Linked DNA regions of Homo sapiens: region 1 is reported to be linked to region 2. Evidence: microRNA targets listed by miRTarBase, many of them from high-throughput screens and not tested one by one. Region 2 holds a microRNA gene; the other region holds the end of a gene's coding sequence.
What was found. The annotated mature microRNA hsa-miR-4530 reads CCCAGCAGGACGGGAGCG and lies in region 2 at 3,380-3,397, opposite strand. An mRNA with a match to its seed (bases 2 to 7 or 8) in the 3' UTR can be bound and repressed. Matches are read on the target gene's strand: a 7mer-m8 pairs with bases 2 to 8, a 7mer-A1 pairs with bases 2 to 7 and ends in A, and an 8mer does both.

Region 1: miRTarBase lists SCN4B as a target of hsa-miR-4530. Seed matches in the 3' UTR shown: 7mer-m8 at 787-793.

The regions. Positions count from the first base shown.
Region 1 is chr11:118,134,454-118,137,453 of GRCh38, forward strand. It overlaps SCN4B (sodium voltage-gated channel beta subunit 4), which reads right to left. Exons shown (of 5, transcript NM_174934.4): 5 at 1-2,667. The coding sequence ends at 2,574. Among named protein-coding and RNA genes, the nearest start is that of SCN4B, 17 kb to the right of the region's middle.
Region 2 is chr19:39,406,250-39,414,405 of GRCh38, forward strand. MIR4530 (microRNA 4530) reads right to left here and starts at 3,429; the gene lies at 3,374-3,429. It overlaps ZFP36 (ZFP36 ring finger protein), which reads left to right and starts at 598. Exons shown (of 2, transcript NM_003407.5): 1 at 598-679; 2 at 1,494-3,158. The coding sequence starts at 656. The coding sequence ends at 2,450. PLEKHG2 (pleckstrin homology and RhoGEF domain containing G2) reads left to right here and starts at 6,420. Exons shown (of 19, transcript NM_022835.3): 1 at 6,420-7,163; 2 at 7,816-7,946. The coding sequence starts at 7,838. TRI-TAT1-1 (tRNA-Ile (anticodon TAT) 1-1) reads right to left here and starts at 6,011; the gene lies at 5,919-6,011. RefSeq lists silencers at 192-641, 3,432-3,491, 3,842-4,161, 6,232-6,591, 7,122-7,261 and 2 more and enhancers at 762-961, 1,012-1,649, 1,650-2,288, 2,289-2,926, 3,189-3,779 and 3 more.

The DNA of each region.
Region 1 (3,000 bases), not on the chromosome of region 2:
TGGGTATAATGTTGACATGGGACAGGATGATTCTTTGTTGTGGGGACTAAGTTTAGCATTCTTAGTAGTGCCCCCACGCATGGGGGCAACCAAAAATGCCCCCCCTACAATCTCAGTCACCTCTATTGAAAACCATCAAACAAAAGCCATGGACAAGAAGCTTTAAGCATCAGAGTCAAGGTTTCTAATATTGCAAAGACTAAATAATTCCAAGGGGGGTGGGATGGAAAGAAAGAGAGAGAGAGTGTGTGTGTCTGTATGTGGGTTGTAGAGATGGGACACAGAGATGAAGACAGGACAGACTTGGAACTATCCCTGCAATTAATACCTGGCTTCCCAGATCCCTTTCCAAGCCAAAAAGATGTTTTTAGACAAAACTTGCCAAGCCTCACAACAGTCCTGTGAGGTAGGTAAGTATTATTACACCCATTTGGTAGATGGAAAGAGCTGAGCTGAGAGAAGCTGCATGATCCATCTAGAAATCAGCAGTAGACCCTGGGGAGGAAAGAGAGGATGGTGCCCTTCTTCTCCCTACTCTACGTGCCTTGGCTTTCTCTTAAGACAGAAGGAGGAGCCCCAAGGTGCTCTGCCTCTTCAAATGTCACCATTGAGAAGGAAGAAGAAAACAGTTTTGCATGAAGGTAGCTATAAGAAGTTTTCTGAATGGCTGGTGGCTCTGGTCTGTCTGCTCCCAAAGCCAGGAAAATCTGAGCCCCAGCCCATGACAGGTTCTGGGTAGAGAAGAATGGGAGGCGCACAGGCAGATCAGACGGGGAACTGGTGAGCCCAGCAGGTTGGCTAAGGGACACTGGCCACAGCCACGGGCACCCTGCAGGTACTACTGGTCCTCAGTCTCCCCCCACTCCACCCTTGCGAGGCTTGCAGCTGCTTTTTGACAGGGAGAGCTCTGAGGTAGACCCCAAACTCTCTGAAAAAGGGGGCTACTCCTCTCTCATCCCTCCTAGGGGCCCAGAAGACAGGGCATCAAAAAATCAGTAAGGGAGAGAGGGATTGGAAGTAGATGGGCAGAGAGGCTTGTTACCACTTTTCCCTGCCATCCCTGGCCTCACCAATTCTGCCCAACAAGGACTCAGGAGATCCCACTCCCAACATCACCACCTCCCCCTAGGGCAGGCTAGAAACCCCAATGGGAGCACCTGGCCGACATCTCCAAGATTCAGTCACTGGCCAATTCCAGCCTCATGGCCCCCTCTATGACCCTGGGGAGGGGAGGGCTGGCGAACCCTCACCAGCACCACACCAGACTCTGCTGTTATGTCAGGACATACCGTCTAGAGAGGATGGGGGTAAGGGCTAGGATTCAGGACTAAGGCACATTCTAGCCCCACACACAAGGGCTGTGCAAACCAGCTCTGGGAGAAGCAAAGGAAAACTGTGGGCACCCACTCCCTGCTCCTCCCCAACCCCAGGGTGGGAGGGGGTGGCCCAGCTGAGCAGGAAGCAGCTGGGAAACCCAAGGACCCCCTCATCCAAAGGAAGAGAGTCCCTGAGGCGAAGGCAGGCCCTTGACCCAGGGCTGGGAAATGAACCACCCTGGGGGCAGGGCGTGATGGAGGGCACGGTGGGGGGGGGGGAGCGAGCCAATGGGAGGTTGGAGGGTGCAGCCTCTCAGGTAGGAGGGGGAGAAGCAGGGGAGAGCTGGGCTCAGGAGTGCCCAGAGTGGCGATGGTCCTGCCATGCCAGGGGAGGGGCTGCCAGCATTGGCAGCAATGGGGCGGGCATCCCAGAGGCCCAGGACACTGGCTCACTACCTCTGTGGCCCAATTCCCCAAGTAGAAATGCTTGGAAAGGCATAGGGAGCACTCGGGTACTCCAGGAAGGCTCGAGGGGCCCCTTCCTGAGCCCCTCAGTAACCCAGAGAGCAGAGGAGCAGGCTAGGTGGCCAGGAACCCTCAAGACCAGGGTGGCCAGCCCTGGTTGAGAGGGCTTAAAAACTCTGAGCAGGGGAGGGGATAGGCAGATAGGGTCCCGGGGCAGGGGAAAGGAAGTTTCCTACTTGGAAGACTGTGGGGGATCTGGTATCCTATGAAGCAGAGGCAGTCTCTCACTGTGGGCCTGCCCCCATCAGCCCCCACCCCAGGTCTTCTCCAGAGGCCTCCAGCCCACTCCCACCTCCAAAGGAAGCCACTTCTTCCTACACCCCATCTCCAGGGTGCAGCTCTTAGGACATCCCTTACGGATCCTCCCAGTCTCTTGTGAAGAGAAGCCTGGAGGAAAATCAAGGCCCTGCTTGTGCAGGGTAGGGAGACTGAAGGAGACCCCATCTGCCCAGGTGTCAGGGGACCAGCCCCTCCACACCACCCTAGCCTCTCCTTTCTTTCTCCTGAATCTTCCACAGACCCCCTCCCCTGGCCATCCCTTGTCCCTGGGGAGCCCTGACTGGGAAGGGGATGGGCAGGCTGGGCAGGACTCTGGTTTCTTGTGCCCGGAAAGACTACAGTTTGAGCCAAGCAGCAGATGTCTCAGGCACGTGGGTTCTACGGTCGGGGCTCAAGCATCAGTTTCATCATCAGAAAGGGGGCTCCCTGCAGCTGCTCAGCCCGAAGCAGGGCTCACACTTTTGAAGGTGGTTTCTCCTCTGCCTTGGAGCCAGGCAAGCCGTTCTCCGTGTTGTCATTCCCCGAGGAGCTCACGAGACACTCCTTCCTGGAGAGGGAGAGAGAAGGGACAGTGGTGAGGAGAGGAGCAAGAGTAGGGGGAGAATTGTGGCAGGAGCCGTGGGCCCTGCACCCAGCCCTGTGCCTCTCCCTGGCCTTCTACAGAGCTAAGGTAGCCAGAGGCCATGTCACCTAACCTCTCTGTACCTCAGTCCCCTCATTTGTGAAATAGAGGTAGGGATGACCTTCTGCGTGGGGTTGCTGGAAGGAGAAATGAGCACTTAGAACAGTGCCTGCCATGTAGAAAGTTCTCAACTGGCCAGGTGCGGTGGCTCACACCTGTAATCCCAGCACTTTGGGAGGCCGAGGCAGGCAGATCACT
Region 2 (8,156 bases):
TGTGAGCCACTGCGCTCAGCCCCTTTCTGTTTCTTTTTGTGATCCTCCCAACCCTCTTCTCCCTCTGAATCTGTCTCTGGGACTGTCTCTGTCTCCCCGTCTTCCCTCCCTTCCTCACCCTGTCTATCTCTCTCTGTATGTCTCTTGGTGTGTGTGTCTCTCTCGATGTTTTTCTCTCTGCCTGTCTGCCTGTCTGTACCCCTCTGCGTCTCTCCCCGCCCCCATCCGTCTGTGTCGCACGCGCACCCCCATCGGGCTTCTGCTCTTGTCAATTGCCCCTGGGGCCCTGCCCCCACCTCCGCCCCAGTTTCCTTCTACAAGCCTCAGTCTCCAGCTTTGAAAACTGGGCAGGCGTCCCCCCATCCGCACCCCCACCCCTTCCCCACGCATTCCCCGCTCGGTCACGGCTGTCCACCGGCCAAGCTCAGGCGCGTCCTGGCCCAGGGCCGGGCGGAAGGGAACCAGTCCAGGGCCAGCCAGGCTGCGCCGGGGGCGCGCGTCCGGGAAGCGCCCCTCCTGCCCCGCCCCCGGCCCCGGCCCCGGCCCCGCCCCGTGCTTGCAGTTTCCTATAAGTAGCCGGCTCTCGGTGCCAGCCTCAGCCTGACTTCAGCGCTCCCACTCTCGGCCGACACCCCTCATGGCCAACCGTTACACCATGGATCTGACTGCCATCTACGAGGTGAGTCCCCGCCGCACGGCATCCCCGGTACCTGCATGCCTGAGTCCGAGTCCCCACCTCTCTAGCGCCGCAAACTCCAGCCCGGGACGCTTGCCTCCCTTCTCCAACTGGGGCTCCCTAGCGCCGCGCCCTCCAGCCTGGGGCCCCTGCCTCCCGCTCAGACCAGCTTGGTGATTTGGAGGTGAAAATGGAACCCGCGACACCCGGCTCTTCGCTCAAACATGGGTGGGGCGGCCCATGCAAGTGGAAAGTCGGAGAACTTTTCTCAGACCGAGGCTGCCTGGAGGCGGAAGTGGCCCCCATACCTGGCTCACCCCTAGTCGTTGCTGAGGGCGTGGTTTTGCGCGGAGGCGTCTCTGGGGCTGAAGTCTCAGGGTGGGGGGATCCGACTTCTGTCTCTCCAGTCCCTGACCGTAGAGACAGAGAACCCTAAAACCGAAGCAATCCGGACTTCCAGGTCAACTTTGCCCGGTTTCTCCAGTTGTGAAACTGGAGATCCCGACGCGTGGGTCATATCCGGGGAGGACAAGAGACCCAAAATTGGGAAACAGTGGTGCGCCCTGACTTCGGGGTCCCCCTCTTGGTCCAGCCGGGGAAGCCGGGATTCCTGGGTCCCTCGGGATAAGGCCTCGGTGGTGGGTAAACTCAGAACCTCCAACTCTGGGTTCCTGGCATCCGGAACCCAGGGGTTTCTGCGGGCGGGTGGGGCTCAGGCGGGGAGCCCACAAACCGGCCTGGCAAGCTCTAGTTCCCTGCAGCTGGGGTGGGGCGTCGCCCTGCATTTTCAGGTGCCTTAACCGACCCATTTCCGCAGAGCCTCCTGTCGCTGAGCCCTGACGTGCCCGTGCCATCCGACCATGGAGGGACTGAGTCCAGCCCAGGCTGGGGCTCCTCGGGACCCTGGAGCCTGAGCCCCTCCGACTCCAGCCCGTCTGGGGTCACCTCCCGCCTGCCTGGCCGCTCCACCAGCCTAGTGGAGGGCCGCAGCTGTGGCTGGGTGCCCCCACCCCCTGGCTTCGCACCGCTGGCTCCCCGCCTGGGCCCTGAGCTGTCACCCTCACCCACTTCGCCCACTGCAACCTCCACCACCCCCTCGCGCTACAAGACTGAGCTATGTCGGACCTTCTCAGAGAGTGGGCGCTGCCGCTACGGGGCCAAGTGCCAGTTTGCCCATGGCCTGGGCGAGCTGCGCCAGGCCAATCGCCACCCCAAATACAAGACGGAACTCTGTCACAAGTTCTACCTCCAGGGCCGCTGCCCCTACGGCTCTCGCTGCCACTTCATCCACAACCCTAGCGAAGACCTGGCGGCCCCGGGCCACCCTCCTGTGCTTCGCCAGAGCATCAGCTTCTCCGGCCTGCCCTCTGGCCGCCGGACCTCACCACCACCACCAGGCCTGGCCGGCCCTTCCCTGTCCTCCAGCTCCTTCTCGCCCTCCAGCTCCCCACCACCACCTGGGGACCTTCCACTGTCACCCTCTGCCTTCTCTGCTGCCCCTGGCACCCCCCTGGCTCGAAGAGACCCCACCCCAGTCTGTTGCCCCTCCTGCCGAAGGGCCACTCCTATCAGCGTCTGGGGGCCCTTGGGTGGCCTGGTTCGGACCCCCTCTGTACAGTCCCTGGGATCCGACCCTGATGAATATGCCAGCAGCGGCAGCAGCCTGGGGGGCTCTGACTCTCCCGTCTTCGAGGCGGGAGTTTTTGCACCACCCCAGCCCGTGGCAGCCCCCCGGCGACTCCCCATCTTCAATCGCATCTCTGTTTCTGAGTGACAAAGTGACTGCCCGGTCAGATCAGCTGGATCTCAGCGGGGAGCCACGTCTCTTGCACTGTGGTCTCTGCATGGACCCCAGGGCTGTGGGGACTTGGGGGACAGTAATCAAGTAATCCCCTTTTCCAGAATGCATTAACCCACTCCCCTGACCTCACGCTGGGGCAGGTCCCCAAGTGTGCAAGCTCAGTATTCATGATGGTGGGGGATGGAGTGTCTTCCGAGGTTCTTGGGGGAAAAAAAATTGTAGCATATTTAAGGGAGGCAATGAACCCTCTCCCCCACCTCTTCCCTGCCCAAATCTGTCTCCTAGAATCTTATGTGCTGTGAATAATAGGCCTTCACTGCCCCTCCAGTTTTTATAGACCTGAGGTTCCAGTGTCTCCTGGTAACTGGAACCTCTCCTGAGGGGGAATCCTGGTGCTCAAATTACCCTCCAAAAGCAAGTAGCCAAAGCCGTTGCCAAACCCCACCCATAAATCAATGGGCCCTTTATTTATGACGACTTTATTTATTCTAATATGATTTTATAGTATTTATATATATTGGGTCGTCTGCTTCCCTTGTATTTTTCTTCCTTTTTTTGTAATATTGAAAACGACGATATAATTATTATAAGTAGACTATAATATATTTAGTAATATATATTATTACCTTAAAAGTCTATTTTTGTGTTTTGGGCATTTTTAAATAAACAATCTGAGTGTAAGCTGGGATCCTGGCTTCTTCGCGGTCTAGAGACAGGAATGGAGAGGGAGGGGGTGACTTTTTGGAAGCTGGGTGCAGTTAACTCTTCCTCTCCGAGCCCCGCGGCGCTTACCTGGCAGGAAGTGACGTCACCGGGCCTGGCCGTTCACCTGAAAGGGTGGGACCAGGTGAGGTCACCAGATGGGAACCGGGGGAGCCAGTTCCCGGGCGTCGGGGGCGCCGCGCTCCCGTCCTGCTGGGCTCCTTGACCCAGCTTCGGGCGGGTGCGGTCGGGGACGGGATGTTTCCGTCCCCACGGGGCCGCGGGAGGCGGGAGGGGCCGGGTGGGGAGGACGGAATGTGCTGGGGCGCGCGCCCAGAGCGAGCGGGGGCGGGCGCGGGGCGGGGCAGCCTGGGGTAGCGGAACCCGTTTCGGGACTAGAGGTTCCGGGGGGGCTTCGACACCTTCTGGATGTTGGGGAAGCGGGTTTAGGGTCTCAAGAGGCTAGGATCTCAACATTTGGGAGTCACAGGTTGCATCCCCTAGCGCTTTAGACTCTAGACCCCTGGTGGCTCGGAGTTGCAGATTTCTGGCCACCCGGGACCCTGGAGCCCGGGAATTACCGGGTCTTGGCATTTCCGAACCTTGGAAGTCCGAGGCTTCGCACACCGACCAGGGTCGGCCCCGCGAGGCCAGGGCGTGTGGGTAGGGGCCGCGCGTCTAGGAGGGGCCCCGGGGGAGCCGCGTCTTCAGACCATACAAGGCCAGCGTCGTCGGGACCAACCCCGGGGCCCCGCGCCCGGAAGCCGCCCTGCGTCAGCGCCTGCGGCTCGGCCCTGCCGCCCAGCCTTCGCCCCCTGCGACCCCTCTTTTTTCTCCTTGCCCCGCACTCCTCCCTCCTCCCTCTCACTTCCCTCTTCTCTCCTTTCCCTACCCTCACCCTTCCTCCTCTTTTTCACTTCCTCCTCTGCACCCTTCTGCCCCGCCCTACACCCTTTGCCTTCTGTTCTTCTCTCCCCCTCCAATTTGTCCCCTCCCTCATTACTCCTCTCCCACTTCCAGCCTCCCCATCCTGCCGTCTCTTACCCCCTTTCTCCTCCTTCCCGTCTCCCTTCTCTCCCTTTTTCCGTCCTTCTTTCCCTCTCCACCCTTTCCTTGCCCTCCCACTCCCCATTGTCCTCTTCCCCTCCTCCCCCTAGCCTTACTCCTTCTCCTCTTCTCTCTCCCTCTGAAGCCCCTTTCCCTCCTCTCCCTTCTCTCTACCCTCCTCAAGCCTCCCTCCTGCTCTCAGGCCTCCTTGGCCCACTCCCCTTGCTCACTGACATTTGGTCTCCTCTTCCAGGAAACTGCTTCCCTTGTGGGAAAGGGCTCAGGCCCTAATAAGTAGAAGAGGATCAGGCGAGAGGGAGTCAGAACCCCTGAGATGCAAAGGCAGCAGAGGGGCAGAGACCAAGAGCAAGCAGTGAAGAGACATTTGCAGAAACAGTCTTGGAGACTGAAAGAACAACATCTCTGGTCCTTCCTTTAGCCAGATCTGATTCTCTGCCCCTTCCCCAAAAAATCCCTCATATAAGAAAACGGCACTTCTCACCATCTACCAGGGCTTAAGCCAGACACCCAGGAGTATCCCTTGACACCTTGTTCTCAAATCCACACCCCAGTCCAACAGCAATCCTGTCTGATCCACCTGCAAAATAGATCCACTATCCACCTGCCCCCACCATGACCCCCACCCTGGTCCTAGCCAACATCGTCTGCCATTTGCATCTTCATAGCAGCCCCAGCCCCAGTCTCTGCTCTAGCCCCTGCCTTCAGTCTCTCCTTTCTCCACTCCCCCACGAGACAACCAAAGGAAGCCTGTTATGAGACCTGAGTCAGGTCACATAAAAGTCAAAGTCCGAAGTCCTCCCCACAGCCCACACAATCTGGCACCCATCGCTTACCCTCCCCCTTGGCCACTCTGCTCCAGCCACACTGGCCTCCTAGCTGCTCTACCAAGTCTGGTCTGCTTCATCCATAGGAGCTTTGCACTAGCTGTTCCCTCTGCCTGAACACTCCCCTGGTGTCCCCATGGCTCACTCCCCTCCTTCATGTCTCTGCTCAAAAGTTGCCTTCTCTGTGAGATCCTCCCTGACCACTGCTGTTGCAATCCACACCCCACCTCCAACTACCCCATCCTCCCTACCTTGCTCGACTTTTTCCATGACATTTATCATCACCACCTAACATTAAAATGTACTTAATTCTTATGTTGACAGCAATCTGCCTCCCCACTAGAATGTCGCGTCCTCAGGGGCAGGGACTACTTGTTCACTGCTGTATTACACACAGCTAAAGGAAGCCAGGCATAGTGAATGTTCAATATTTATTGAAAAAACAAGTCGACTCAAAAACATAGTTTTCCTTTTCAACAGAGGTCGAAAACTCCAAGACAGATAGCTATGTTCATCTGTAAAGGAGGCATTAAAAAGACAGAGAAATACAGAGGAGGCAGAGTCATATACAGTTTGCCGAGGACCCACATCTCTACAGAAGTCAAACTGTTTGCACACAATTCCATGCCCAGAGCATCTAATAAGAGACGATACCCCCACCTGGTGGCTGGGACGGAAACGGCACCTCCCTACAATACAGAACACCCAAAGGACCGTCGCCAAAGCCCTAGGAGTCTTTTGAGCCCAATAATTCAAAAGATAGAAACGTTCATTCATCTAAGTGATGTAGATGTTTTGGTTGGTTTATTAGATGTGTAAGTTTATAAAAACTGATGGGGAAAAAAAGTGCTCCAGGTGAGGATCGAACTCACAACCTCGGCATTGCTCCGCTCGCACTGTCATATAAGTACCGCGCGCTAACCGATTGCGCCACTGGAGCTCCGGCCGCACCCCTGCGCCGGGGTCTTCTTCAGTGGTTCATAGCCACGTGACCTCACCGGAGGGCCCCGCCTTGTGTTATATATGCAAATTAAACATTTTGCATTGACCAATAGGAGACAGTGCATTGCCAGTTCCGGATTCTCACGCCTCGCGGCCCTTGCTGTAAAAGGGAAAAGTCCGCGAGGCGTTTGGAATGTAGGGGTGTCGCCTACCAGAAGGACACGCCTCCTCATGAATATTCAAAACAAGGGGTGGGGTCTTAACCCTTCGCTGGCGGGTCGGCCGGAAGGCAGCCCCTCCCCCCCCCGCAGGCGGGAACAGGATGTGAGCCCCGGCGACAGCGGGGGAGGGGAAGCCCCGGGCGACCGCCCCCCGCCTCACAGCTGGGATCGGACTCTCCCGCCCCAGATGTGGCGCCGCCGCCGTCACACGAGCCCCGTGACACCCAGCCGGGAGCCCGAGGGGTCCAGAGGCTCGGACCCGGGCGTCCGGAATTTCTGCACCGCATCCTGAGAGACCCCGAGGTCCAGACCCCGGCGCCCAGGCTGGAGGACTTGAGCCATCCAGGTGCGCAGCGCCCCCTCCTGGAGCAGCCGGGAGCCCGGACGTCACCCCGCGAGACCCTGGAGGCCGAGCGCCCCGTATCCCCGTTTCAAGAACTCAGGATCCAGGACCGCAGACTCCCTCCAGGGCTCCGATCCCAAGACCCCGCGTTGGAGGAACTTGAGATCCGGACTTCTAAGCGCCCCAACCAGTTTCGGGCTGCAGCGGCCATCGCTTCAAGGGGACCCAGGACTTTGGGACCCCCCTGTGCTCCCACCTGGAGGGAGTTTCATTCCTGCCCCTAGAATTAGGGGAACTCAGAAATCCATCCCCCACCCCACGGCCCTACCTAGAAGACTTAGGAATGTGGGTCCCCAGCGCCGCCATCTGAGACTCCAGAGTCGAGGCTCCTAGCATCCCCTACGTAGAACACTGAGAAATTCCGACTGCGGGACCCCAGTCTCCGAGAGACCCCAGATTCTATTCCTGGAGCCTGAGAGCCCGAAGTTCACGCCCCTGAGTCTGGGCTCCGCACCTCCCTGGGGACCGCGTCGGGGTCGCGCAGGAGCCGGGCTGCCTCGAGCCGGGGCTGGAGGCTCCCCGGGAGGTGAGGGGGGAGGCGAGGGGCCCAGGCGGACTGGGGGAGGGGGCGGCGCCACTGCTGAACAATGAGGGGGCGTGCCGGCGGGGGGCGAGCCGAGGCGCCGGCGGGAGTTGGGGGCTGGAGGGGTGTGGGAAGGCGCTGGGGAGGCTGTGGCTGTGGGGACGGCGATCGGGGTTCGGAGAGACCGGCCGGAGGGGGTGCGAGGGCTCGGGGCCAGCGCCCCAGCGCGCAGCCCTCGGCGGGGGAGGGAGCCGTCTGCAGGACCCTGGCATCCGGTCCCCCAGCCTCCGCCCTCCCCTGGGACCCCGCGGCCTCCCGCCCACGGCTTTTCCCAGCCCTGCCCCTCGCCCTCCGCTCCAGCTGGAGCCCAAACGTTCCCAGGATCCCTAAGCCTCCGGCCCCAGACAAACGGGACTCGCAGCTTCTGCGCCTCCTGCTCCGCTCACTCTTCTTTGTCTCAGCCTTTCCATCTTTTTCGCCAGGTTCTCTCTCCTTGTCCCCTTCTTTCTGTCACTTTGTGCCTCCCCCATTAGTTACTCCCAGGGGCCCCTCCCTGGATTTACACCACGCTCCTAATTCCCAGCCCCCATCTGTGAGTCTGGGCGGCGGAGAGGCCCATGGGGTCCTGATATCCAAGAAGGGGCTCTTTCTGCAGGACTCTGCTGGGCCGCTCAGCCATGCCTGAGGGAGCCCAAGGACTGAGCCTCTCCAAACCTAGCCCAAGCCTCGGGTGTGGCCGAAGAGGTGAAGTGTGTGACTGTGGCACCGTGTGTGAGACTCGGACAGGTGAGCCTAGAGGCAGGGGCGGCGGAGCCTGTGGGGCTTTTATTCCTTGGCAATGCTGTCAAGGCAGGGTGATGGAGACAACCCCAGGCCAACTCGCACAAAGCTCCGAGTCTGGTGGGGAAGGCGGGCCCATCCCCAGGCAATGACAGGCCAGAGGGGGCAGCGCTGGGCAGAGTGGTCAGGGCTGTGATCGTGGATCCTCTGAGCTCG